Linked DNA regions of Homo sapiens. The protein of the gene in region 4 purifies or fractionates together with the protein of the main gene of each other region. This does not show direct contact. Each region holds a gene or a part of one and is shown on either strand. Other genes may lie near its edges. The genes, in order: CRACD, CNOT1, WASHC5 and CAPZA2.

Region 1 (7,026 bases), on a different chromosome or scaffold from region 4:
TAGAGAGGCAAAACAAAAACAAAACAAAAAAGCACTTTAGCATTTCTCTACTTTTATGTTGTTTTTTAAACTTTTCTGTGTCCTTTTTTTTAAACCTGGGACTTTACCTGCAGGAGTGTAAGAACCCTGTGGACTCTTCTCCCCGGGCACCTCTTCTGTAGGAGCCGATCTGCCCCATTGAGGACCTTTCATCTGCACAAGGGGCCAGGCATTCTCCCAAGGCCTGGCAGACAGTATAGGAAGCAGGATCTGCTCCTGAAGAAGGGGATGGCTCAAGACAGTGCTGCCGCCCAGACAATGAGGAAGCCAGCTGGGATAGCTAGAAACAAAGCACAGCACTTAAATCTCAGCATCAAGTGCTTATCTATGTCTTCAATCTGTCACATTTGGCTCCGACTCCTTTTTCTCATGCATCTATTAGGGGATGGAAACAAATGTTTCATTCAGCAATAGCTTAGAATCTCATGCCCATTATAAAGATAACCATAAATAAATGAAAGCTAGAAGGCCAAAACTTGATTTTTCTGTGCTTCTTGTCATAAATTAATATATACTGAGCATCCATTTTGCTTTTAGAGCTAGCTGCTTGGTCTTTCATCTTTTGTGCATATAGAAGATAATTGCAAAAAGCAAGCCCATCTGCTAAACCTCACCACTCCATGCCTACAGCAGAAACAAACAAATAAACCCTGGCCACATCGGAGCTGCTGGCATAGTGCCGCACCCCCTGCCACACTCTAGCAGGAGCCCTTTGCTTGCTGCCAGCCTGTGAATTCTCTGTAGGTACAGGCGTGGTGTCCTACCTTCTAATTCAGTGTGGCCTGTGGGTTCGGGCTGTGTCACGATCTCTCTGATCTTTCCAAATCTACCCTTCATCTGAGGTTGTGTTTTTTTTTAGTGATTGCATCTGTATTCTAGAGCTGCAGGCCATTCCACAATTCATCCTTTGAAGGACCGCACTTGTCCCGGTGGCAGATTTTTGCCGCTCATTTTTCTCATCAGGTCCCTCTTCCTTTTATCTTCTCAGTGCAGTCAGTACCCTGAGACTTCTTTGGAGCGATTGTACCAAAACTTTTGTGTGTGTGTGACAGAGTCTTGCTTTGTGGGCTAGGCTAGAGTGCAGCCTAGCGATCTCAGCTCACTGCAACCTCCGCATCCTGGGTTCAAGCAATTCTCATGCATCAGCTTCCCCAGCTGGGATTACAGGTGTGCACCACCACACCCGGCTAATTTATTTTTAAAGTATTTAGTAGAGATGGGGTTTTGCCATGTTGGCCAGACTGGTCTCGAACTCCTGGCCTCAAGTGATCTGCCCGCTTCAGCCTCCCAGAGTGCTGGGATTACAGGTGTGAGCCATCGCACCCAGCCATACCAAAACATTTTTGTCGATCAGGAATTTCGTGTTCCAGGTATAGATGCTATACTTTATTTTCCTTTATTCCTTCAACAGATATTTATTGAGCACTGACCAAATGAGGTTTGCTACGTGGGTGTAAAGGGTACCCATACAAAGATGAAAAAAGACACACTCCCAGCCTCAAAGGGACTAAGTCCTGTGTAGGAGCTGAGGCATATATGCAGTGTCTGAGAGTTTAACAGTTCTTAGCACAGAGGTGATCTAGGCCAGGGGTCAGCAAACTACTCATTATTTTAGGCTTTGTGACATGAAGCTACAAGTACTCTCCTTTGTGCCACTCTTCCTTCATAGCACAAAAAGCAACCAAAGACAATGGGTGTAGCTGTGGCCCGGTAAAACTCTGATTCTCCAAAACAGGCTGTGGGCAGGATTTGGCCTCCTGGCTATGTTTTGCTAATCTTGGAGCTACTCTGAACCTCATATTAGTCAAAGTAGGAAAATTAGTTCCTAAAAGTTATATGACTTTTACAAGTTAATACCAGTGGACGCTGGCAGAACAAATAGTCAATGTCCTTTGGTTCCAAAACGGGTGTTCATTTCATTTTCTGAGGAGTTCCCTCTGCTCACCTGCATTCCCTGGGCCAGGCTGGGCGAGGCGCACACTGGAACGAGTGCCACCGTTCTGCGATTCCCTGCAGGTTGTCTTCTGATCCCAACTGACTTTCTATTTTAATCTCCCCTACAGGTTGCTCCCGTTAAACCGTCTCGGCCAAAAAGGCACTTCTCTTCTGCTGGCACCATCGAAAGTGTCAACTTAGATGCCATCCCCCTGGCCATCGCTCGCCTGGACAACAGTGCCGCCAAGCACAAGCTGGCTGTTAAGCCAAAAAAACAGAGGGTGTCAAAGAAGCACAGGCGCCTTGCCCAGGTGTGTAGAGCCTGCACGGGCTGACCAGGCAGGTGCCCTTGCCTACTGGGCACTAATTCTACAAGTGGGTTGGCATTGGGGTGGAGCCATGTAAAGACCTGAGAGTCTCCCCATCGGGAACTTGAGTGTGTGGCGGTGTTGGGGAATACACAGGCCTGTTTACTTTCCTCGCCCTTTCTGGCATGAGGCTGGTGGACCTCAGAGGGAGCGGTTGCCTTTTGAGGGGCTCCAGACCCGTTGTGTTTGCTTTGCAGTGGAAAAGTGGTTTAGCCAATGCTCCCTCAGTTTGACTAGGATAGGCTTCCAAGTCACAAGCTCCAGGGGACATTAATGAAGTCCAAGTCTCTTTTTGCTCATCTAATGCTTGAATATTGGTTTTCCTCGTTTGTTCATATTAAGGAAAGGAATTAGGGAATGACAAATAAAGGAGCTGGTGGGGAGGGGGGCGCGGAAACAGAATACACGTCCTTTTCTCCATTCGCACGACAGAGTCTTGCGTGGGGTGACCGATGCCTGAGTTTAGCTATCCCTGAACTTGAGAATACCTGCTTCCAGGTGTTCTTGAGAAATTAAGAGGGTCGCTGGCACTGTGAATAGGAAAAGGAACGACTGTGGGTGGAGAAAGCAAAAGGCTAATTGTGTTTTCCTTTCCAATGTTAGGATCCACAACATGAGCAAGGCGGCCTTGAGAGTCGGCCCTGCCTGGACCAGAACGGACACCCAGGCGAGGACAAGCCAACGTGGCACGAAGAGGAACCCAATCCGCTGGATTCCGAGGAAGAGAGAAGACGCCAAGAAGACTACTGGCGAGAACTGGAGGCCAAGTGCAAGCGGCAAAAGGCGGAAGCAGCCGAGAAGAGACGCCTAGAGGAGCAGAGGCTGCAGGCGCTGGAGAGGAGGCTTTGGGAAGAGAACAGAAGGCAGGAGCTCTTGGAGGAGGAGGGCGAGGGGCAGGAGCCGCCTCTAGAGGCGGAAAGGGCGCCGCGGGAAGAGCAGCAGCGGAGCCTGGAAGCGCCAGGTTGGGAGGACGCGGAGCGGAGGGAGCGTGAGGAGCGCGAGCGCCTGGAGGCGGAGGAGGAGCGAAGGCGTCTGCAGGCCCAGGCCCAAGCGGAGGAGAGGCGGCGGCTGGAGGAGGACGCCAGGCTGGAGGAGCGGAGGCGGCAGGAGGAGGAGGAAGGAAGATGCGCGGAGGAGCTCAAAAGGCAGGAGGAGGAGGAGGCTGAGGGATGGGAAGAGCTGGAACAGCAGGAGGCGGAGGTGCAGGGGCCGCCCGAGGCGTTGGAGGAGACTGGGGAGGGCCGGCGGGGCGCGGAGGAGGAGGATCTGGGGGAAGAGGAGGAGGAGGGCCAGGCGCACCTGGAGGACTGGAGGGGGCAGCTCAGTGAGCTTCTGAACGACTTTGAGGAGAGGCTCGAAGACCAGGAACGCCTGAAACCCGAAGGACAAAGAGAACACTCCGAGGAGCCAGGTATTTGCGAGGAGCAGAACCCAGAGGCCGAGCGGCGAAGAGAGCAGCAGGGAAGGAGCGGGGATTTCCAGGGGGCCGATCGTCCTGGGCCCGAGGAAAAGAGAGAAGAAGGGGACACGGAGCCTCTCCTGAAACAAGAGGGGCCGGTGGAAGCCGCGCAGCCTCCGGTGGAGAGGAAAGAAGCCGCCGCCCTTGAACAAGGCCGCAAGGTGGAGGAGCTGCGGTGGCAGGAGGTGGACGAGAGACAGACCATGCCCCGGCCCTACACGTTCCAGGTGTCCTCCGGAGGGAAGCAGATTCTCTTTCCCAAAGTCAACCTGAGCCCCGTGACGCCCGCAAAGGACACGGGGCTCACCGCTGCTCCCCAGGAACCAAAGGCCCCCAAAGCCAGCCCAGTCCAGCACGCCCTACCGTCGTCCCTGAGCGTTCCCCACACCGCCATTCTGGTCACGGGCGCGCAGCTCTGTGGCCCGGCAGTCAACCTGAGCCAGATCAAGGACACCGCGTGCAAGTCCCTCCTGGGCTTGGAGGAGAAGAAGCACGCGGAAGCCCCAGCTGGGGAGAACCCTCCCCGAGGCCCCGGCGACGCGAGGGCGGGCAGCGGGAAGGCTAAGCCCCGCCAGGAGTCTCCCAGCAGCGCGTCCGCACTCGCAGAATGGGCTTCCATTCGGTCCAGAATCCTGAAGAACGCAGAGAGTGACCCGCGCAGCAGCGAGAGGGACCAGTTGAGGCCCGGTGATGAGTCCACTCCCAGGGGCCGGTGTGATTCCCGCGGGAACCAACGGAAGACTCCGCCAGTCAATGCAAAGTTCTCTATTATGCCTGCCTGGCAGAAATTTTCCGATGGTGGCACGGAGACCTCCAAACAGAGCACGGAAGCTGAAAGCATACGAAAAAGACCCATGCTGGGACCCAGCGAAGAGACAGCCCCCCAGCCTCCTCCTGCTGGTGTTCGCGAGCTCGGGAAGGGTCCGGAGAAGTCGGAGATGCACCGGGAGCCCGCAGACACCACCGAGGGATGCAAATTTGCCAAAGACCTCCCGTCTTTCCTTGTCCCAAGCCTTCCTTACCCTCCGCAGAAAGTGGTGGCCCACACAGAGTTCACGACCTCGTCGGACAGCGAGACTGCAAACGGGATAGCAAAGCCAGACCCTGTGATGCCAGGTGGAGAGGAAAAAGCCTCACCGTTTGGAATAAAATTGAGAAGGACCAACTATTCCTTGCGCTTCAACTGCGACCAACAGGCAGAACAGAAGAAGAAGAAGAGGCACAGCAGCACCGGAGACAGCGCGGATGCAGGGCCGCCTGCAGCGGGGAGCGCTCGTGGAGAGAAAGAGATGGAGGGTGTGGCCCTCAAGCATGGTCCATCCCTCCCCCAAGAGCGGAAGCAAGCCCCTTCCACCCGGAGGGACTCCGCTGAACCTTCCAGCAGCCGCTCTGTTCCTGTGGCCCACCCTGGGCCTCCACCGGCCAGCAGCCAGACCCCGGCTCCGGAGCACGACAAGGCAGCAAACAAAATGCCACTGGCACAAAAGCCAGCACTGGCTCCCAAGCCCACCAGTCAGACCCCACCAGCATCCCCACTTTCCAAACTGAGCAGGCCCTACTTGGTAGAGCTGCTGTCTCGCCGAGCGGGGAGGCCGGACCCAGAGCCAAGTGAGCCGTCCAAGGAGGACCAGGAGAGCAGTGACCGCCGGCCACCCTCGCCCCCAGGCCCCGAGGAAAGGAAGGGACAGAAGAGGGACGAGGAGGAAGAGGCGACAGAGAGGAAACCTGCTTCCCCACCTCTGCCTGCCACTCAGCAAGAGAAACCTTCTCAAACACCCGAGGCCGGGAGGAAAGGTAGGTAGCTGCAGGGTGGGTAACTGCTGCCAGCCGAGGTGTCAGAGCCAGGGCATCAAGAAGAGATCCACACGCAGGTTCATGAGAATAATTTACCAACAATACAGATTTGAAAAAGGAAAGTTTTATTAGAACGCTGCAGAACAAAACCGTGGGGCGCCTCAGTGAGAGGACTGAGTGCCCTGGTGGATTTTCCTTAGGAGCATTTATGGACCTTAAGTCGAGAGCTTAAGGGTAATTGGAAGGGTAATTTGGGCCACATTAGCCACGTAGGTCGTGATAAATGATTACATTTGTGGACATTTTGGTGCCTTAATGTCAGCAAGGGTTGCAAAATGAGTTTTGCCATGACATTCCAGAGATGTCTAGAAATTCTAGTTATAAAAGTTGAAAAGCCTGGAACCAGATGCCTATGTTAGATACTAGGGAAGTTTAATTCTGAATTCCCCAGATAAGGAGTTTTGCCTCTGGATGGTCTGTTTGATGGTCACCAGGTGGTCCTTGCGCTCCTTGTCTGCCTCTGTCCAGCTCATTGACTACGTCACTGCTAGAACCAGAAGTGCCCAACGCCAGAGGCAGCCAGTGGAGCTGGTGTTGGGCACACCTTCATTAATTAGAGGCTGGTGTGGGATTCCCGAAAGACACTCACTCGTGATTCATAGTAAGCCTTGTTACTTCTCATTCTTTCAAATTTGGGAAATGCTGACCAACTCTGCAGTGTGTCTGCAGTTCACTCTTGATAATGATACTTATTTACACAAGCGATAAAAGGTGCCAACAGTTAGATGAATGCCTTTTCGGTTGGCAATAGAAATTGAAATAATAATCCCAACGACTGAAGATGTCATTAACCATTTTGAGGGGGCCTCGCAGTGATGATAAAACTGGAGTGTCCCCTACCAGTGTCTTCACTGTATCTCTGGGCAGTAGTGGCACCATGATGGCAGTTTAGGGGACTTTAGGTGTCTCCATCAGACCTATGGATCCTCTCTATGGGATAATTGACTGTCTCCATTTTATGTAAAATGCTCTGCAAATGCAGCTTGGGTCCCTCCATCCCCCCACCCACCCCCTACCCTCACCCAGCTCACCACTGCAGAGCCCTCCTACAAAGAAATTTTGGAGCAAGCCTTACCTCTGGCTGACCCTGATGTTTCTTCAGATTAAATGTTTGGGCCAACAAAGCTGTCAGTTGGATTAGCTTTTGTGCCCCCAGAGAACCTTCATCTAATACTTTTTCTTTTCTATTATGCAGAGTATAGGAGGTAAAGTATGGGTCAAAGCCAAAAGTTACTCACATTTCCCAGAGAAATTGTCCCCTGAGGTTTTCTTAGGAGGGATTGTTTTCTCCTTTGTTCAAGTATTTAGATTTGGGGCAGTTTTTGCAGAGGAATGATTTGTTTCCTGAGGAGTGTTGGTCTGGTTACTTGC
Region 2 (7,026 bases), on a different chromosome or scaffold from region 4:
AGAGTCAGTATTGAGCCAAACTTTCATAGCCTGTATTCAAACTTCCTTGACACGCTGAAGAATCCTGAATTTAACAAGATGGTTCTGAATGAGACCTACAGAAACATTAAAGTAAGAGTTGGTTCTTATATTTCCTTTAATTATTGCTTTGAATTTGGAAATATTTGATTATATAGGTAGGATTTTTGCTATTTTTCCATATATATTGTCAATATTAGGTACCTCTGGAAATTGCTGTAGATTTTGTTTCTTATATGGAACTAAATTTTATGCAGAACTTAAATTTATAGGCATACCCTGTGCCTTTTCTTTGAAAGTAACCACTATTATGAATTGTTTTTGTCATGCCATGCATGATTTTAGAACTTTACCACTGTTATACATAAGCAGCATAGTATTGGTTAGCATATTCTGTATGGTGTCGCCCTCTGTACATCCTTTTCTTTTTTTTTCACTTACTTTTTTTTCTCCCCTGGATATTATTCATGATAATGATAATGCTCTTTGCTGTAGCCCCCTTTTTTTTTTTTTTTCAATTTTTTTGAGATGTGGTCTCACTCTGTTGCTTAGGCTGGAGTGCAGTGGCACGATCTCGGCTCACTGCAGCCTCCACCTCCCAGGTTCAAGCAGTTCTCTTACTTCAGCCTCCCGAGTAGCTGGGATTATAGTTGTACCGCCATGCCCAGCTAATTTTTATATTTTTAGTAGAGACGGGGTTTAATCATATTGGCCAGGCTGGTCCCGAACTCCTGACCTTAGGTGATCCACCCTCCTCGGCCTCCCAGAGTTCTGGGATTACAGGCCTGAGCCACTGTGCCCGGCCAGTCCTCTTTTTTAAAAAACAGAAAAATATAGTCTTGTAGAAAACCATTGTATGTATTTGTATTGCTGCTGGGCATTTGTGTTGTTAATCACTTAAACTATTATAAACAATGCTGTCCTGAATGTTTTCGTTTGTATCTTGTAGTATTCAAGTGCAAGATATCTTTAGACTCTAAATCTGTTTGTGGAATAGCTGTTGTCTAGGAGTCTGTGCAGTTTAAGGTCAAATTCTACTGAGCTGAGGCTTATTCAACAAAATTCAAGTATTTTAATTTCTAAACCATCATTTATTTCTTAGGAGGAAAAACTTCTAGAACCAGCATACAGCTGTGGTCATTCTTTGCTCAATAACTTGGGTCATTGGCTTAGGAACCAGCACTATATTTAAACCTGTGGATGGGAATATTCCCCATTCTTGGTTACGCTGTAGTGCAAAAGAATTCCTGGCTCTCTGTTGCACAGCTGACTTGTGCCATTCTGCTGTTGCTGTATAGAGTTAAGGAACATGGCTCTATTTCGTTTTTATTATCTGATAGCAAGGGTGGTTGGGATACATAAAAGTTTCCACATACTCTGTAGCAAAGTTTCAAGACCATGTTTTTTAAACAGAAGTTTAAATATAGCCCTAAGTCAAGAGGTACCACAGAGTAGATGGGTATATACATGTGTGCATACCTGCAGCCAAAACACTCTCCTATGTTAGTTCTGCCCCCCCTTAGAAAAACAGTAACCGGAGAATCAGTTAAATGGTTTGGGTTTTTTAGAAATTTGAAAAGAAGTATATAAACAGTATTATACTATATCTCAGAAAGTTATCTTGGTTGGCTGCAGAGATTTGTTAATGACCTGGGTATACTGAAGATTGCAATAGGAGGCTAATTTGATTATATTCCTTTGTATGCTTGCTGCCTTTAAGGACTTAAGCATGGCTATCATCCTCATTTAAATTAATTTAGCACTTCAAAATAGCTTTGTAGTTAGGTCTCTGCTTTAAACCTAGCTAAGGTTTTCAGAGTTGAAAATACTTTTCTAGGGGAGGATAGCTGGCACATAACTTTGTGTTCTTTTTGAATTTTGTGCAATGTGTTTGTACCTATTTTGAAAAAATAAAATGTAAAGACTTCTTCAAGGTAAAAATAGCACTGTTGAATCATAAACACAGCAAAATGATATTGAGAATGATATACAGAGTAATTCTACTTTGGGGCCTGTTCTTAGAAATGATGACTTGTCTTTAGGATAGGATAATGGAATTCTCAAATACTTAGTTGAGTTTTCTTTCATAAGCTTATTCTCATATCTTTCTTAATCTTACACTATTTCAGGTGCTCCTGACCTCTGATAAAGCTGCAGCCAATTTCTCAGATCGTTCTTTGCTGAAGAACTTGGGACATTGGCTAGGAATGATCACATTAGCTAAAAACAAACCCATCTTACACACTGTGAGTTTCATCTAAATGTGTAAAAATTGAGAATCTTCAGCACATTATGATTACAAGTATTGGCTGTTTGGAGCTATTTAATGATTATTGGGGTTTTGTAAGATTTTGGCCCACGTTTTGAGTTGTTAACCCCTTTTTGTAAGGCAAGGACTAGACATTATGTTGATTCCTGTTTTGGGGATAAGCTTGGCAAAATACTTTTCTTTGGTTTTGTTATACCATTTTGGGGGGTATATTCCCCGCTTTTGAAAGTATTTTTCTTATTCTAGGACTTGGATGTGAAATCATTGCTGCTAGAGGCTTATGTTAAAGGACAACAAGAATTGCTCTATGTAGTGCCCTTTGTTGCCAAAGTCTTAGAATCTAGCATTCGTAGTGTGGTGAGTAGATTTTAATATTTTATTTATGACTAATTTCTAAGCATTGCTTTGTTTTAGCATGAGGTCAAGAGATTATATTCTTAGTTCTTGTGAGGTAAAGCTAGTTAAGTCTGTTTTCCTCTATGGCACTTGGATTTCCAATTTGAGAGGCTGGGTGAAATAAGAAAGATTATAATGGTTGGCTTTGGTTTTTGGTTTTTTGTTTTGTTTTGTTTTTGAAATGTGATATAGGTGAGAAGGCTAGGGGTTTTGTTATGGCTACAGAGGTATAAGTGTTTAACTATGTTTAACTGTTTTTGGTTATTTTTTAATCCTTGTTTTTTGTTTTTTATTTGTTTGACTCCCCCCTACCCCCTTATGTTGTATTGAATTGTTTTAAATAATCCAAATTAAAGGGCACATTTTGGGCCAGCTTAACATAATAGCTTTTCTTTAGGTTTTTAGGCCACCAAACCCTTGGACAATGGCAATTATGAATGTATTAGCTGAGCTACATCAGGAGCATGACTTAAAGGTAATTTACTGCTTCCTTGTCCTCTGGAACATTCTTTGCCTTCACATTATTAAAACTTACAGTGAAGGCAGGGTATTTCGGGGGAAGTACTATAATAACTGAAAGTAGAGTATATTATGAGTAAAACTAAAGTTTTCTTTTAAAAATTCTAATCCAACTCTGGAACTGTGCAGTTAAACTTGAAGTTTGAAATCGAGGTTCTCTGCAAGAACCTTGCATTAGACATCAATGAGCTAAAACCTGGAAACCTCCTAAAGGATAAAGATCGCCTGAAGAATTTAGATGAGCAACTCTCTGCTCCAAAGAAAGATGTCAAGCAGCCAGAAGAACTCCCTCCCATCACAACCACAAGTAAGTGTGCTAATTAGTCAAGGAAGGCTTCTGTTAGCTAGGATACTATCTTAAATGGTACTTGTCCATGTATATCGCAAACTATAATTTCCCACATAATGTAGTGGTGAAACTTTGTATACGTTTTGGTGAGCCTTCTAATTATCAAGCAGAAGTAATGACTAGGCCTTGTGTTACCATCTTAGATTCCATCCTGACAGTTCATGCATATTATTAACTAAATGTGATTTAATCAGTTGCCTCTCATACCCCAGCTAGGCCAGGTTATCTCCTTTGTTGTGTGAAGTCCCAGAAATAACTGCATACTATGATGGCCTGTTAACCCCTCAAATCTGGGTATGGCCAGACCTGCTAGATCTGCCAAGGGAATGGGACTGTTTTATCTACATGAAGAAGATGGGAGAAGGGTATGGGAGTGTTGAATGATTGGGAGTTGTGGTTAGAATAAATTGAGCTTTTCTTTCTTTCTCAGTCCTCAGCAGCTGAGAATCCCCAGATAAACCTAGGAACAGGCTAGGTTGAAAACATACATTTATAATATAGACTAAGTTTATAGGACTTGGGCCTGACAATATGGCATGGCTGCTCAGTTGATTTCTGTGCTGTGGGGCACTGGCACTGACATAGTTTAACATACTTCGTGTATATCTCTGTTATAACAACAGAATTTCCCTTTCAGGGTGGGAAAAATAGGACCTGCTACATCCTTCCCTCCTCTCCCAATTTAATTCGTTTAATTAGATAATGACCACTTAATGATATTAAGCTAATTTTATAATAAAGTCAACAAATGTACTTTTTAAATCTCTTTTTATTACTTGACATTTAGCAACTTCTACTACACCAGCTACCAACACCACTTGTACAGCCACGGTTCCACCACAGCCACAGTACAGCTACCACGACATCAATGTCTATTCCCTTGCGGGCTTGGCACCACACATTACTCTGAATCCAACAGTAAGTAAACACTGCTCCATTCTCCCAGCTTCTAGTTTGTGATAAGGTAAATTTTGTTTGGCCACCTTTTCTTCAGCTCTTTGCCCTTCCCTCTGGATTCCTAGGTTGTAGAGTTTGTCAGAGAGGATGGAGATCTAGAACTGCTGTGTAGTTCAGTTGGGATTGTTCTTCTTCCCTTAAGAGATAGAGTGACTAGATGTTAGTTATATTGGTTCCTCATATCCAAACCCATGATACTAAAATTTAGCTAGCAATAAAATCACAATCTCCAGGAATTCCTTACACAGAGTAAAAGATGCTTAATGTATATCATAGCTTTTTATTTTCTTTATCTTGTCACTTTAGCCTTCTGCAGTAAGCCATTTCTTCCACCTGAAGGCTGGAAATGAGCTGATTGTGGGTGTGTATACAATTTCTAGGCTAAGATCTTGAAGTAGGACTTAGCACTTTGAGTTATGTTGTTGTGGCCTGGTTCCAGAAGGAGGTCTGATACAATATGGTCATGTAAGATGACCTCTGATCAGTCCTTTTTCCTATAGTTAGTATTTGCTTTGTACATTCAAGGGGACATTTTATTGTTATCTTTAGTCTTTTATTCTACTTAACAGAATATATAATACAGAATCAGGTGAGTGGAGTTTTCATTGTCCTTACTTTTTAGAAACTGAAAATGTTCACAAATACAAGAGTAACATTAATACATTGAACTTTTTATTAAAAGGAATTGAAAGGGTATCAGAGAAATCATTTTATCCTTGTCCCCCCATCCCCACTCCTATAGACATGGTACTTAGTTTTAGAGGGGTGGAGTGAGAGGCAGTGGGACACCTAGATCCAGAAATTGTGATTCATCTTTAGAATACTCTTAGTGTTGTGAACACTATTATATGCTAGTTTAATTTTTTTTTTTTTTAATTCAACAAGTTAAAGGGACCAAGTAAGTTTTGGGGCATAATTTACACCTGCAATAAAAGATTAGAAACAGCCTTTCAAATGAAGCCAAATACTTCAGTGGGCACTGTAAAATGCTCACTATTCTGATGAATTAATTTTAATAGTTTTTGTAAGAAGTCTTTTTTCTATAAACTTTATTCTTTTTACATTTTCCCAAGCTAGTGGAGAAGTTGCTTTCTTTTAAGAGCACTTGAGCCACAAATTTTAAATAAGCCAGCAGTGTGTCTTTAAGTAGTTAATGCATATTGTAATGAACAGTTTGTCCATTAAACTTGGATTTAAAAAAAAGACATATCTATTATTGTGTATCACAGGGTATACTGAATACATTTCCCTGTATGGAGCTCAGTTTCTGTTACCCGAATTTTCCATTGGTTAACTTTAAGTAGAAACTGGTAGTTTTTGGTTAATCTTGATTTACAAAATCATGAATGTGATTGCCAGTAGGAATTGGATTGTCTTATTTAAACAAGGTGTTGACTTTGTCCTCCCCAACCCCCCAGATTCCCTTGTTTCAGGCCCATCCACAGTTGAAGCAGTGTGTGCGTCAGGCAATTGAACGGGCTGTCCAGGAGCTGGTCCATCCTGTGGTGGATCGATCAATTAAGATTGCCATGACTACTTGTGAGCAAATAGTCAGGAAGGATTTTGCCCTGGATTCGGAGGAATCTCGAATGCGAATAGCAGCTCATCACATGATGCGTAACTTGACAGCTGGAATGGCTATGATTACATGCAGGGAACCTTTGCTCATGAGCATATCTACCAACTTAAAAAACAGTTTTGCCTCAGCCCTTCGTGTAAGTTGGCTATTTCCTTGGTATAGGTACAAAACGTATTACTGCTTGTCTGTAATAATTTTTTTCTTTGTCTATATATGGCACTGGGCGTTACCACTTATTCTTAATAATCACCATATTTGTTTGATGTCTTCCATCATTTTAGATTGTAATTCTGTGAGGCAAAGCATCATGTCTGTGTGTTTTTTTTTTTTTCTGTTATATTCTCAACACGATGTTTGACAGATAGTAGATACCCAAATATTTGTTGGTTTAAATAAATTAAGATTTAAAAAGGAAATGTGATATCTGACAATCTCATTTCTGTTAACCAGGAAGGATGAAAGCTGTTTGAGAAGGCCGATACAAAATGACTTAAAGTGATGTTGCATGTGCACACACTTTTCAAATAATTCACTTACTAGTTTTGAGTCTCAGATATCATGGTTAATAATTCAGGTATCATGATTAATAATTTGTTTACTGCTTTAATGATTTTTTTTGGTTGTTTTTTGCCTTTTTTTTAATGTTTCATGAGACAGGGTCTCACTCTGTAGCTTAGGCTAGAGTACAGTGGTGCAGTCTTGGCTCACTGCATCCTCCACCTCTGAGGTTCAACTGATTCTCGTGCTTCAGCCTCCCAAGTAGCTGGGATTACAGGCATGTGCTACCACGCCCCACTAATTTATGTATTTTTTTAGTAGAGAAGTGGCTTCACCATGTTGGCTAGGCTGGTCTCAAACTCCTGGCCTCAAGTGATCTACCTGCCTTGGCCTCCCAAAGTGCTGGGATTAGAGGTGTGAGCCACCGCGTCTGGCCTGCTT
Region 3 (7,121 bases), on a different chromosome or scaffold from region 4:
CTATAAAGCTTATTGTCTTAAGCCACTGGGTTCTGGCATAGTTTATTATGCAGCAATAGATAATGATCCTAATAATGGCATCCCAAGCAGAGGTTACAAGTAAGTGCAAAGGCCCCAGGGCAGGAATGTGCTAGATGGCTAGCAAGGTGGCTAAAGTGGCTGGAGCAGAGTCAGCTAGGGGCGGAAACAGAAGAAGTAGACTGGATTGGATCTGAGAGCCAAGAAGCCACTACAGCTGTCTAGAACTCCCATGAAGGTACCCTGTAATACACATTAAGGCATACATTATTAACAAGTTCTTTTAGTTTCCTCTGTGATACTTGCTTGTTAAACCACACTGATCTCTAACAGGCTGAATTTCAGATAATTTCATTTCATTTTCTGCATGGATATGGTCTGGCTTGGGAAAGCAGAGAGGGAAAGGGGAAATAATGGACAGTGGGCAAAACAGTCACATACTAAAGCCCTCTGAAGACCACCAAACTAACCCAGAAGGTCTAAGTAGGATGAAACTTTACACCAGGAGTGTCCAATCTTTTGGCTTCCCTGGGCAATATTGGAAGAAGAATTGTCTTGAGCCACACATAAAATACACTAACACCAAAAATAGCTGATGACCTTAAAAAAAATCGCAAAAAAATCTCATAATGTTTTAAGCAAGTTTACAAATTTGTATTGGGGCACATTCAAAGCCATTCTGGGCCGCATGTGGCCTGCAGGCCTCAGGCTACACAAGCTTGCTCTAGACTCATGAAGAGGAGGACAAGCTATGATTAACAGGTCCAATGGCTACCCGATTTGGGATACCATGACAGGGCAACAATGTGGCCCTGGGAAAAACAACTTAAAGCAAAGTAACATTACTTGCCCTTTACTCTACTCTCTCCCAACATACAGAAGGACAGACAGACTCAGCACCTGCATGCACACATTCGGGGAAGCTTCAGTCTGGGATAACGACAGAGATCAAGACTTTCGTGTGTCAATCTCTTGTTTTAATCCTTAGTCCCTTACTCAAGAATTACGCTGTAGACAACTTTAAAAGAACATGAGGAGGATAATAATAACCAAATATGTTCGGCAATAGTAAAACAAATATTATGGGTCTTTATTACCTAGGTAAATCACCTTTCTAAAATTCTATATATAAACTTTATATTAAATTTTTAATGCAAAAGCATATGAGTTATATTTAATATACTTTTACTGAAATGAACTCACTGCTTGTAATCTGTTTTGCCCCATGAAGGGCACTTGTGTTTTCTATTTCTAATAATGCAAGCATCTCCTGCTAAGTTTTTGAAGATGGAAGAAGTTAAAACAAGATTAGCTGAAAGAAGGAAATCACTTAGTTACATTTTATGTACTAGACCTCCTAACCCGGACTAGTTATATTTTCCATGTAACAAATGGAATTTCCATAATTTGTACAAATATAATTTGGCTAGAGTATTTGGTAAATAGCCCCCTCGTTGGCTGAAGGACTAGTCCTGAAGAACAGAATCTAAGAACCATCATTAAAAATGCCTAATCAAGTTGCAGCTAAGAGGTAGGTGGATGGCTTTACAAAGTGTTAAGACTCAGCTAAGTCTTAAAAAACCACTTTAGAATTAGGTCCAAATAAACACTGTAGAAGAAGCTATGTTAAATTATCCTTTCAGAGGTTCTCTTGGTGCTAGGGATCAAGAACACTTGAAGATCAGTTTTCTCAATACAGGCTATATTATTATTGGCATGAAATCCAGAGATCCCACTATATTTTCTTATTTTCTTTTACAAGTGCCGGTAACTTCATTTTTAATAATTTGGCGTGGAACTGTGATTTTCAGTTTGGGAAGTAATCCTAATCAAAAGACATGCTTTCAAGAATAAGGCATGACATCCTTACACCAATTACCCTGAGTACAGAATAATATTTCTTAAGGAAATCGAATTGTCGTGGACAAACAGTTTACCCTCTTCAGAGGACAAAAGAAGGCAGGTCTATTTTTAGCCTTTCGCAAAACCTCAGTTCCATAAAGGAAGCACTGGTCTCCACAAATCCATTATCACAAACAAAATATAACGGTTGCTGATCAAGATAAATGCAAGCTGCATATATTTTCCAGAAAAGTTCTGAAATGAGGCTGAACCTGAAATCCTGGGAAAGGCAGGTGAAGGACAATTAGAGAAGGTGTCCCTTGTAGTGCACAAAGACAGTAAAACTTCGCCCTCACTACGCCTCACCTATGTTTGAGGGAGCTCCATGCGCTTGCAATCAGGAGACCCAGTTTTATGGCTCTGTGACTTTTTTTCTTTCTCCTGTCCGATCATAATCCTGATTCCGATCCCAGGAATCAGGGCCCTGGGAACTTTTTTTTTTTCCCCCAAATGCAAAGGATTTTGACATCAGTATGTCACAGGTGAAGGCATTAAGGCGCGGCGAGCAGCAATGACTTGCCCAAACTCACAGCCCATGGCATAACTAGAATGCAAATCCACGTCTGTCAGCCTGTAAAAGTCCTCACTACTAGCCTTTCAGTTTTCTCAAAAGCAAAGAGAAATAACGACGACATCCATACAGCAGTGTTCCCGGAAACTTGGAAGGATGAGATTCGGACCAAGCAGCTGAACGGTGCTTCCTAAAGCGAGGAAGGGGTGTGCAAAATGATTTCCCCCTAAGCGGAGACGAAGAGCTGGATTACAGCCCCCGCCCCAGAAAGCCCCTAAGCCCTCCATCCCGAGTCCCCCATCCAGGCTGCACGCGACTCTGCAGACCTCCCCGTGGCCAGCGCGGCCCAGCGGGGAGGGGAAGGGGGCCATGCAAAAATGGGGCGCGCTCACTCCATCCCCACTCACCTGTCAGCCGGGCCGCGCCACGGCGCACGCGCAGGGCCGGAGGTCGCGCGCGGAGCCGGCACCCAGTTTCCACCCCTCCCTCAAGGCGGCGGTCCTCTTCTATCCGCAGTCCCGGACCTGGAGCGGGTCAGACCCCGACTTCCGCCCCTGACTCCCCAGGCGGTCACATGACCGAAGCGGCTGGGAGCAGGGAGGGGCATCATGTGACCACTCGCCGGCGACGGCTGATGACGCAAGAGCCCGCTCTCACTTTTCAGCGGCAGGCGAAGGGGGCTGAGGAAAGGAGGTGGGTCTAGGCAGGGGAAATTGGGGTGCCACCAGACGGAGACAGCTTGGACTACCAGGTAGGGAAGAAGCGGGGGACGGCAATGGGGAGGGTGGCAGGAGTTTCGCCACCCTCAGGGACACTCCACGGGGACTCCGAGCCGGGGGTCCGTCTACCCGGATTATGGTTGTGGAACTTTTCACGCCACGGTAGTGAGTCTGGGACAGTTTACCCTCCTGTCCGAGACGCCATCTCTCCATCCTTTCGCCTCAAGTGTGTAGGGGCAAGATTACGAATTTTTGATCCAAATAGATTTTGTTTGAACTGACTTTAAAAGTAAGGCCACGGGAAGGTCGTTTGAATAAACTCTCTGGACCTCAATTTCCTCTTCAGTTATGTAGATTGCAGTGAGAATTAGCGATAAGGAGAATAAAGTGCCGGGACACCAGTTTATGGCATTCTGTAGGTGACCGAGAAATGATGATGTCTGTTGTTATTTTTGTAACTGGCCAAATCTTTATTGGTCCCCTATTTTGTGTGAGGAATTGCTTTATATGCAATAGAATATGTCAGGGTTCTAGTTTAAGGAGGTGTCAGTTTAAAGAAGCTGCAGACATGTGAGCAAATAGTTGTGATGAGTTTCATAATAGGAGTGTGTTGTGTACATGTGCATGTGATAGGGATAATGGTAGCATGAGGGAGGGAAAAGCAATTGTATGAGAAGGATTCAGAGAGAAGGGATTATCCTTGCATGTTGAAAAAGGAGAGGCAGCTCTGGCTGACTTGTACAAGGCTCCCATGGATTTAAAGGAAGTCAACATATTGTCTATAAATAACATGCAGAGAAAAAACTCAGGAAATGCACAACTTGTTCTAAACTTTCTTGGAGATCATAGGTACCGGGAAGAAAAAGATCAGTGTTATTACCTGGGGAGGGATCCAAGAGAGATTGATTTAAACCAGTTATTCTCAACTGATGCACTATTGACATTTTAGGCCAGATAATTTTTTGCTGTGGGGTCAGGGTGAGGGCTGTCCTGTGTTTTGTAGGATGCTTAAGAGCATCCCTGGCCTCTGCCCGCTAGATGCCAACCACAAAGTCTACAGATACTGCTAAATGTCCCCTTGCGAGAGGGGTAAAATCCTTCTTGGTTGAGAACCACTTAAACCAAGCCATGAAAGATGGTATCTTAGTCAATGTGGGCTTCTGTAACGGAAATGCCATAAACTAGGTAGCTTATGAACAACAGAAATTTATTTCTCACAGTTCCGGGGCCTGTTTCCTGGTTCATAGGTGGCTTCTTGCTGTGTCCTCACATGGTGGAATGGCAAAGCAGCTATCTGGAGCATCTTTTAAAAGGGCACTAATCTTATTCATGAAAGTGGGCCTCATCACCTCCCAAGAGGCCCCACCTCCTAATACCATCACCTTGGAAGTTAGGATTTCAACATATACATTTTGGGTGACACAAACATTCAGACTTTAGCATATGGGTAAGATGTGGGCAGATAGAAAACTGAAGAGAGGCCCTGGCACAGTGGCTTATGCCTGTAATCCCAGCACTTTGGGAGGCCAAGGCGGGCGGATCACTTGAGGTCGGGTGTTTGAGACCAGCCTGGTCAACATAGCGAAACCCTCTCTCTACTAAAAATACAATAAATAAATAAATAAATAAATAAGTAAATAAATAACATAATTGGTGTGTCCTGGCACACACCTGTAATCCCAGCTACTCGGGAGGCTGAGGCAGGAGAATCCCTTGAACCCAGGAAGCAGAGGTTGAGGTGAGCCGAGATCATGCCACTGCACTCCAGTTTGGGCGACAGAGCGAAACTCTGTCTCAAAAAATAAATAAATAAATAGAAAGAAAACTGAAGAGAAGGTTTTCTCATGGTGGGAGCAGGATGAGGAAAAGTCCTCTTTTTCCTTTTTGGTGACAGCGTCTCACTCTTATCGTCCAGGCTAGAATGCAGTAGCATGATCATAGCTCACTGCAGCCTTGGACTCCTGGACCCAAGGAGTCCTCCCACCTCAGCCTTCCGAGGGTCTAGGACAATAGGTGCAAGCCACTATGTCTGTGTAAGTTTAAATTTTTTTTTTTTTTGTAGAGTTGGGGTCTTGCTGTGTTGCCCAGGCTGGTCTTAAACTCCTGGCCTCAAGCAATCTTCCTGCCTTGCCCTTTCAAAGTGCTGGGATTATAGGCATGAGCCACCACACCCAGCCTGAACAAAGTCTGGAGCTGAGATTAAGAATATTGGGTATGAAGGGGAGAAGGAAACAGGAGAGCTATGAATCTGACTGAAGCAGACAGTTAATTTATTCATTTATTGACTATTTTCAGAGCACTTGCTGTTTGTGAAGCACTGCTAACATCTTGCAAGATAGTCACTAACAAAGTGGAGTGACTATAATTATAATTATATCAAAGAAGGTGCTGTTAGAGTCAGAGAAAGGAGTTGTCTTTGACTTGTACTTAGCTGTATTTATTGGGAGAGATTGAGAAAAGTATGTCTGTTCCATCTTTCTGCACCATCCATTGCCTTTGCTTTTCAATTCAATCTCAGTCTTAATCTTTTCCCTACTCCAGAATTACAGAAGAGCATGATCGTGTTTTCCTTGGTCCTCTGCAAAAGTGAAGTTTCACTAAAGTAATGTGAGTTTTGCATTCAAACAAATAGTGACAGCTACTGTTTGGTAGATACTTTCCATTTATACTGGATTGCATTAATCTTCATAGATACTGTGTCTTTGTTCAAGCTACCATAACAAAATACCATAGACTGGGTGGCTTAAACAACAGAAATTTATTTCTTACAGTTCTGGAGGCCAGAAGTTCAAGGTGAGGTTGCCAGCATAGTTGGATTCTGGTGAGGACTTTCTTCTTGGCTTGTAGATGGCTGCCCTTTTTATGTGTCTTCACATGGTAGGGAGAGAGAGAGAGAGCAGTCCCTGGCGTCTCTTCCTTTTCTTTTCTTTTCTCTTTTTTTTGAGAAAAGAGGGTCTCGCTCTGTTGCCCAGGCTGGAGTGCAGTGGCGTGATCATGGCTTACTGCAACCTCAACCTCCCGGCTCAAGCGATCCTACCACATCTCCTCCTGAGGAGCTGGGGCTGCAGGCCCGCACCACCACATCCAGCTAATTTTTTATTTTCTGTAAAGACAGAGTCTCACTTTATTGCCTGGGCTGGTCTCGAACTCCTGGGCTCAAGCCAACCTCCCACATTGGCCTCCCAAAGTGCTGGGATTATAGGCATGAGCCACCTTTCCAGCCAGGTTTTAGATAATCAGTACACATGTGCCTAGTGCCTATCATATTGGACAGTGCAGATTATAGAACGTTTTCATCACAGAAAGTTCTATTGGACAATGCTGCTCTGGACAATTTAGACTTACACTAGAATCAAGACTGAGTAGAAAACAGAATACTTCTGCTGATCATGGTGTCTCATGCCTATAATCCCAGCACTTGAGAGGCCGAGTTGGGAGGATCACTTGAGCTCAGGAGTTTGAGACCAGCTTGGGCAACACAGGGAGATGGTCGTCTCTACTAAAAATTAAAAAAGAAAAATTGGCCAAGTGGTGGCGCGCGCCTGTGGTCCCAGCTACTTGAGAGGCTAATGTGGGAGAATCACATGAGCCTGGGAGGTTGAGGCTGTAGCGAGCATGATCATGTCACTGCACTCCAGCCTGGGTGACAGAACAAGACCCTGTCTCAAAAACAAAAAGAAAACCGAGGCCAGGGGCAGTGGCTCACGCCTGTAATCCTAGCACTTTGGGAGGCCGAGGCCGGTGGATCACTTGAGGTCAGGAGTTTGAGACCAGCCTGGCAAACATAGTGAAACCCCGTCTCTACTAAAAATACAAAAATTAGCCTGGCATGTAGCTCCCAGCTACTGGGGAGGCTGAGGCAAGAGAATTGCATGAACCTGGGAGGCGTAGGTTGCAGTGAGCCAAGGTAGTGCCACTGCACTCCAGCCTGAGGGACAAGAGCAAAACTCCATCTCAAAAAAAAAAAAAAA
Region 4 (7,026 bases):
TGCCTCAGCCTCCTGAGTAGCTGGGACTACAGGCATGTGCCACCATGCCCGGCTAATATTTGTATTTTTAATACAGAAGGGGTTTCATCATATTAGCCAGACTGGTCTTGAACTCCTGACCTTAAATGATCCACTTGCCGTGGCCTCCCAAAGTGCTGGGATTATAGGCGTGAGCCATCGTGGCCAGCCCACCACTTTTTTTTTTTTTTGGGACAGAGTCTCGCTCTGTCGCCAGCCTGGAGTGCAGTGGCACAATCTCGGCTCACTGCAACCTTCGCATCCTGGGTTCAAGCGATTCTCCTGCCTCAGCCTCCCTAGTAGCTGGGACTACAGGCACACCACCACGCCCAGCTAATTTTTGTATTTTTAGTAGAGATGGGGTTGCACCATATTGGCCAGGATGGTCTTGATCTCTGGACCTCATGATCCACCCACCTCAGCCTCCTAAAGTGCTGGGATTACAGGCATGAGCCACTGCGCCCGGCCCACTTCTTACATTTCCAGGTCATTCTTTCTAGTTCCCCTACTTTAACACACCTATAATCCACTGGTTGTACATTTTCACTATCCCTCCCCCCGTCTCAAGCCCTCACTTCCCTGCTTACCCAGCTGAAATTCCACAGACCATCATCATACCCTGCCCCTCTTCATGTGGTCATTCACTCTGGGCAAAACCACAGCCCTGGTGAAATTTATTTCATCTACTCTATGCCTGCACCCAAACAGCTTTACACGGTTGAAGAAAAACATACAGCCATGCTCATCATTGGTCTCATTTACTTTAAATTCATTATCACTAACCTTGAGGTCCTTCATCCTGTCTGCCTATAAAATTGTTTCCAGGTTCATGCACTTTCCCATTCTTCTAGCCCAGAGCTTTCCTCTAGTTCCTGTCTCCTGTATCTAACTGCTACATGAGATATTTCTCCTTTGAATAGAAAACTGAGCTCCTGACCAGCCTTCTTCTCCAAACCAACTTGCTCCTACAAGAATCTTCCTCAATTTCTCCAGCCCCAGACATGGTTCTCTTTATCTCACACTCCATGACCAAACTCTCCCCAGGTCTTGCTGATTTTACCTTTAGGATATACCTAGACCTCACTGCTTTATACCACCTCTACAGCAACCACCTCAGTCCAAGCCAGCATGCTCTCTCAACTAGATTACTGCAGTAGTCTCCTAGCTGTTCTCCCTGATTATGCCTTTGCCACCACACTTCAGCCTACTCAGCAAAGCAGCCATAATGTCTCCTACTAAAATTACATCCCTGAGCTATAGGATACTCTGGGTTTCCATTCTTCTTTCACTTTAATAAATGCCATTCTTTTATTATTATTATTATTTTGAGACAGAGGCTCCCTGTGTCACCCAGGCTGGAGTACAGTGGCTCGATCTCTGCTCACTGCAACCTCCACCTCCCGGGTTCAAATGATTCTCCTGTCTCAGCCTCCTGAGTAGTTGGGATTACAGGCGCGCATCACCATCCCCGGCTAATTTTTTTTTGTTTTTAGTAGAGACGGGGTTTCAGCATGTTGGTCAGGCTGGTCTCGAACTCCTGACCTCGTGATCCACCCGCCTCGGCCTCCCAAAGTGCTGGGATTACAGGTGTGAGCCACTGTGCCCTGCCTAATAAATGCCATTCTTATACTATAAAAGACTATTCTGTGCCATCATTATTTCAGACTGTTCTAAATTATATTATTATTATTATTATTATTATTTTTTGAGACAGAGTCTTGCTCTGTCACCCAGGCTGGAGTGCAGTGGCGCGATCTCGGCTCACTGCGAGCTCCGCCTCCCGGGTTCACGCCATTCTCCTGCCTCAGCCTCCCGAGTAGCTGGGACTACAAGCGCCTGTCACCACACCCGGCTAATTTTTTGTATTTTTAGTAGAGACAGGGTTTCACTGTGTTAGTCAGGGTGGTCTCAATCTCCTGACCCCGTGATCCACCCGCCTCGGCCTCCCAAAGTGCTGGGATTACAGATGTGAGCCACCGCGCCCAGCCTGTTCTAAATTATTTTTGATAAATCTTCCGTCTCACAAGCAAATCACCTTAAAAACAGTTGCATACATTTTCAGTAATGCATTCCAGACTAGAACAGAGATAGGAAATTGATGACTTTCATGGGATAGAAACTCATGATGGCCTAACTGATACAACTAAGCTTGTCAATTAGATCTAGTATTTAGTTCACCATCATCAAACTTTCAAATATATATATTTTAAAAAGGAACAGATAATTAATGTTACCAATTCATTTTCTTTAGGAATCCCAATGTGCCAAAACTTGTATTTTAAAACTAAAGAAAAGATGATTTAGACAAAATGTCATAATTTCATATTATATTCTCAATGCTTTCAAAGCCCAACAGTGATTTTAAAAAGAAATTAAACAACATGCTTTCATTGAATTTTTAAAAATCTATACAATTCAAGCTAATGAAATATTTTATTGTACATAATAAAAGTGGTGTTTTTCTAAAAAAAAAAACAATAAAATAAAATAAAAAAAAAATTTCCAGGCCCAGACGTCTGTGGGAGTACGTGAGGAAAGGATTCCACTCAAGTATAATCAGCAATACTCTATTGAATGAAACCATAACTCCACTTCACTCCCTATGGTAAATACTAACATTCACCACAGGCTTGAAATTCCTGTAGCATCAGTAGAACTATTTTTGAAAATATTACAAACATGCTTATGATGCATAGGAGGATGAAAAAATTTAGACTGTAACCGCACACCATATGTAATCCCAGCTTTTCTAATTTACAACCAGTTAAGAATTACAATATCCAAAGAAAGTATTTTAAAATATATATGCTCACTGGTAAGTGATTTTCTACTCAAATAAATAGGAAAATTTGCATTTTAATGTCACATTGAATTTCAGTACTTTTCAATCCAAGAAAAAAAAAATAAACCGAGACATGGTCATGAGTTCAGGATTATATATATTACAATTTGCCTTGTTATAATACATTTGTGGCTTTATGATAAAAATAACTCAGGGACATATGGAATTCAAGCTGATTTGCGTAACTGTCACAAGAAAAAAAGCATTAAATGCATTTCTGAAATAAGTATTTTCATTAATTTCAGAATCTCAAAACAGCATTAGACCTTGCCTTGTTTAAAAAAAATTTAGTTCAACACTAAGCTAGCTAAATAACCTTCTTGAAAGGTTTAAACACAATTGATATAGAAAATGCTTTCCCTCTAATCTCAACTTTACATAAATGGAACAGGTGAGGAAGAAAAGGTAGACAATTTCTTTAGCAGCATATATGGCTAAATCCATCAACCACCTTAAACTAGAATGTCCATTATTGACCCCATTAAAAAGAACTGGGGAAATATCAAAAATTACTGATTTCATAAACCAAAAGACATCAATTTTAGGGTTACAGTTAGTAAAATATTTTTGAGACACTTCAAAAACTTTTAACCATAAACTAGAAGAATCATCTCTTCATTGTAAGAAAGAAAGGCCTAACAGAAAGACATTTAAACTAAACTGATTTTCAATCCTCTTAGAACAAACAAAATGAAAAATAATGGTTGATTAGCTAAGCTTTGTGCTCTAATCAAACTAATTAATTACAGTGATTTTAAATGGCAACAGCCCATCTGACTGGGCAGCTTGACAGTTCAGAATACTTTTGCAATGATTTTTTAACGCAAAGACACTAAAATGATCCGGTCATGCAATGTTCATCTTATGCATTCTGCATCTCTTTGCCAATCTTGTAGCTAAGGATCTTGTTCCAATCAATCTTAGTGCGTGTAACTGGCAACTGTCGACGTAAGGCTTTGAAAGTAGTGTCCGACATTGTCTGATAATTCTCACTGATGGCAGTCTATGAAAAACAATAGTTAGAAGTTTAAAGTAAAGCAAAGAACAGAACAATTTATAAAGCACATAGATGTTTTCAGAATAAGTTTTATTTAAGCAGCCTGTTTCACTGTTTTTAAACAGTCAAATAAAATCCCAACATTGTTTTAAAAGCTGTTTAACAGCAGCTAGAAGAGCCGGGCGCGGTGGCTCACGCCTGTAATCCCAGCACTTTGGGAGGCTGAGGTGGGCGGATCACGAGGTCAGGAGATCGAGACCATCCTGGCTAACACAGTGAAACCCTGTCTCTACCAAAAATACAAAAAAAAATTAGTCGGGCATGGTGGCGGGCGTCTGTAGTCCCGGCTACTCGGGAAGCTGAGGTGGGAGAATGGCGTGAACCTGGAAGGCGGAGCTTGCAGTGAGGCGAGATCGCGCCACTGCACTCCAGCCTGGGCCACAGAGCAAGACTCTGTCTTCAAAAATAAATAAATAAATAAATAAAATAAAAGCAGCTAGAAGAAAAAGCCTATAATAATTTTGAATAAACTTAATGAAATAAAACTATAAATTAGACTTAATATTTGTGTGTCATTTTGAATTTATTTTAGTATGTCAGAACAATTTATAGATTATTATTTTTAAGGAGTAGAAACTTGTCCAATTCACAAATTAAATGGTTCAATTCAAGAGTGTAGTTTAGAAGCTGATAAATAATATAAAAAGTAAAGCACAAAATGAAATGTGATCTAAACAGATTACACATAATCCAAATGCTAAGACACAGCCTGAATTAAAATTTCCAACCAGAAAAAAAATAGCCACTTAAAGTCTGGCATATTTTGACTGATACAGGTTGAGCATCCCTAACTGAAAAATCCAGTTTCCAAAGCTTGAAACATTTTGAGCATCAACATGACACTCAAAGGCAATGCTCACTGAAGCACTAATGCAGATTTCTAATTTTCAGATTATGGAAGCTTGACTGGTAAATAGATAATGCAAATATTCCAAAATCCAAAAAAATCTGAAATCTAAAACACTTCTGGTTCCAAGCAACTCAGATCAGAGATACTCAATCTGCACTCAGAAATTATGTTGGCCAAAACCTAGTCTTTTTTTTTTTTGAGACGGAGTCTCGCTCTGTCACCAGGCTGGAGTGCAGTGGCGTGATCTCAGCTCACTGCAACCTCTGCCTCTCAGGTTCAAGCGATTGTCCTGCCTCAGCCTCCCGAGTAGCACTCGTCACTACAGGCACATGCCACCACACACAGCTAATTTTTGTATTTTTAGTAGAGACAGGGTTTCACCATGTTGGCCAGGATGGTCTTGATCTCTTGACCTCGTGATCCACCTGCCTCGGCTTCCCAGTGTTGGGATTACAGGCGTGAGCCTCCGCGCTCGGCCTAGTCTTAGTATTTTGAAAACACAAACTATTAATGGAATTCAATTTACTTGCCACTCTTTTTGCCTACACATTAGTAAGTCTGCCTTTGTGTTAAAAGCAGACACACAACAAAAAGACTCTAACTGATGCAATGGAAAAATTCAGCCTTTGGCTGAAATTAAAATTTCAGTGACATTAATTCATATGTGAGTGTAGCTTATATAATATTTAAAAAATCATACCTGGTATTCATTTTCTGCAGCTTCTACAATCTTTATAAATTCTTTTGCTGTTTGCACTTCATTCTGAAAAAAAAAAAAACAAAATAAAAATAGTAATTTAAAACTAAACCACTATTATTTTAAAATATATGTATGGTTAATGTAATGTTATAATAAATAACACAGAAGGAAATTATGACATAGAATAAATATTGTAAGATCAATTATTCTAAGTCTAAGGGGAAAATAGGTAAAATTATTTTAAAAGTCTACAGAATAAGCTGGTCTCAATGTTCAGCTGGCTAAGGAAAGTGAAATCTCAATGATACACACATGGATGAAAAGTTCAATTTTAAACACTGGACATGCATTCCAATAGACAACCTTTATGGGTAAGAAGTTTGGTAAAGATTTCTAATTGATGACTCTTTATCTGAATATTGTTAAATATTTACTGAACATTACGTAACAGAACAGTGATACCAAAAAAAAAAAAAAAATCACTAATCAGGAAGAATGTATTTTTCTGGAAATTTTTTTTTTAACATGCCAATAGATGGGTTTGTTTGCTTTTTCCTAACAGTAAAGTTAACAGAATCTGGATTTAAAAAATAAAACAGTGTTAATGTAAAAGTCTCTAACACCTTATACTTTATATATATGGTGTAAAAATATAAAACAATGAAAACCTCCTAAGATAGAGTAAAAATGGTCATTCCTAAAAAAACGAGCACAAACTGGCATATTAGTCAAGTTTAATTACTATGACCATCTCTCAAAACCGTACCCTCTGTACTCTTGTGGACAAATTTCTCTTAGGAAGCATCTGTTTTTTTTTTTTGAGACAGGGTCTCAGCCTGTAGCACAGGCTGGAGTGCAGCAGTGTGATCTTGGCTCACTGTAATCTCCGCCTCCCAGGTTCAAGCAATTTTCATGCCTCAGCCACCCAAATAGCTGGAACTATAGGAATGTGCCACCATTCCCGTCTCATTTTTGTATTTTTAGTGGAGATGGGGTTTTGTATTTTTAGTAGAGACGAGGTTTCGTCATATTGGCCAGGCTGGTCTCGCACTCCTGACCTCAAGTGATCCACCTACCTCAGCTTCCCGAAATGATAGGATTACAGACGTGAGCCACCGCACCCATCCAGGAAGCATCTTCGCTCAATGTCAAACTCCCCAAACAAGACGGCACCATACCCTTGTTATGTCAATAATATTGAATGTAGTAATTACATATGATATGTAACTATATGGAGAACATCTCATGGAAAATCAGACATTAGTAAGTTTTTTTCACTGGCAAATTTTGCAAGGAGAGTACCAATTAGGTCAAAGCAGAAATCACCTAAGTGCTAGTAAAAATTTTTTTAAAAGATAGCTTCAGGGGCTGGGTGTGGTGGCCCATGCCTGTAATCCCAGCACTCTGGGAGGCCAAGGCAGAAAGGTTGGTTGTGGCCAGGGTTTGAGACCAGCCTGGACAATATGGTGAGACCCCATCTCTACAAAAAATAAATTAGCTGGGCATGGTGGCACACGCCTATAGTCCCAGCTACTAGAGAGGCTGAGGCAGGAGGATGG

Evidence for each region.
Region 1: the proteins of CAPZA2 (region 4) and CRACD purify together in Homo sapiens (affinity purification with mass spectrometry; 5 studies listed by BioGRID and IntAct, with this or other methods). This does not show direct contact.
Region 2: the proteins of CAPZA2 (region 4) and CNOT1 purify together in Homo sapiens (affinity purification with mass spectrometry; 5 studies listed by BioGRID and IntAct, with this or other methods). This does not show direct contact.
Region 3: the proteins of CAPZA2 (region 4) and WASHC5 purify together in Homo sapiens (affinity purification with mass spectrometry; 5 studies listed by BioGRID and IntAct, with this or other methods). This does not show direct contact.

Annotation. Positions count from the first base shown.
Region 1 is NC_000004.12:56,311,095-56,318,120, forward strand, and holds part of CRACD (capping protein-inhibiting regulator of actin dynamics), read left to right. Parts: intron 1-113; exon of another isoform or gene 114-514; intron 515-2,102; coding exon 2,103-2,285; intron 2,286-2,945; coding exon 2,946-5,595; intron 5,596-7,026. UniProt on the Homo sapiens protein: Involved in epithelial cell integrity by acting on the maintenance of the actin cytoskeleton. Positively regulates the actin polymerization, by inhibiting the interaction of actin-capping proteins with actin.
Region 2 is NC_000016.10:58,542,804-58,549,829, reverse strand, and holds part of CNOT1 (CCR4-NOT transcription complex subunit 1), read left to right. Parts: coding exon 1-111; intron 112-1,196; exon of another isoform or gene 1,197-1,331; intron 1,332-2,147; coding exon 2,148-2,264; intron 2,265-2,533; coding exon 2,534-2,644; intron 2,645-3,080; coding exon 3,081-3,158; intron 3,159-3,331; coding exon 3,332-3,509; intron 3,510-4,338; coding exon 4,339-4,469; intron 4,470-5,926; coding exon 5,927-6,223; coding exon of another isoform or gene 6,224-6,445; exon of another isoform or gene 6,446-6,677; intron 6,678-7,026.
Region 3 is NC_000008.11:125,088,777-125,095,897, forward strand, and holds the start of WASHC5 (WASH complex subunit 5), read right to left. Parts: upstream 3,017-7,121; 5' UTR 2,839-3,016; intron 2,622-2,838; exon of another isoform or gene 2,227-2,621; intron 1-2,226. UniProt on the Homo sapiens protein: Acts as a component of the WASH core complex that functions as a nucleation-promoting factor (NPF) at the surface of endosomes, where it recruits and activates the Arp2/3 complex to induce actin polymerization, playing a key role in the fission of tubules that serve as transport intermediates during endosome sorting.
Region 4 is NC_000007.14:116,914,564-116,921,589, reverse strand, and holds part of CAPZA2 (F-actin-capping protein subunit alpha-2), read right to left. Parts: intron 5,531-7,026; coding exon 5,468-5,530; intron 3,864-5,467; coding exon 3,723-3,863; 3' UTR 1-3,722. UniProt on the Homo sapiens protein: F-actin-capping proteins bind in a Ca(2+)-independent manner to the fast growing ends of actin filaments (barbed end) thereby blocking the exchange of subunits at these ends.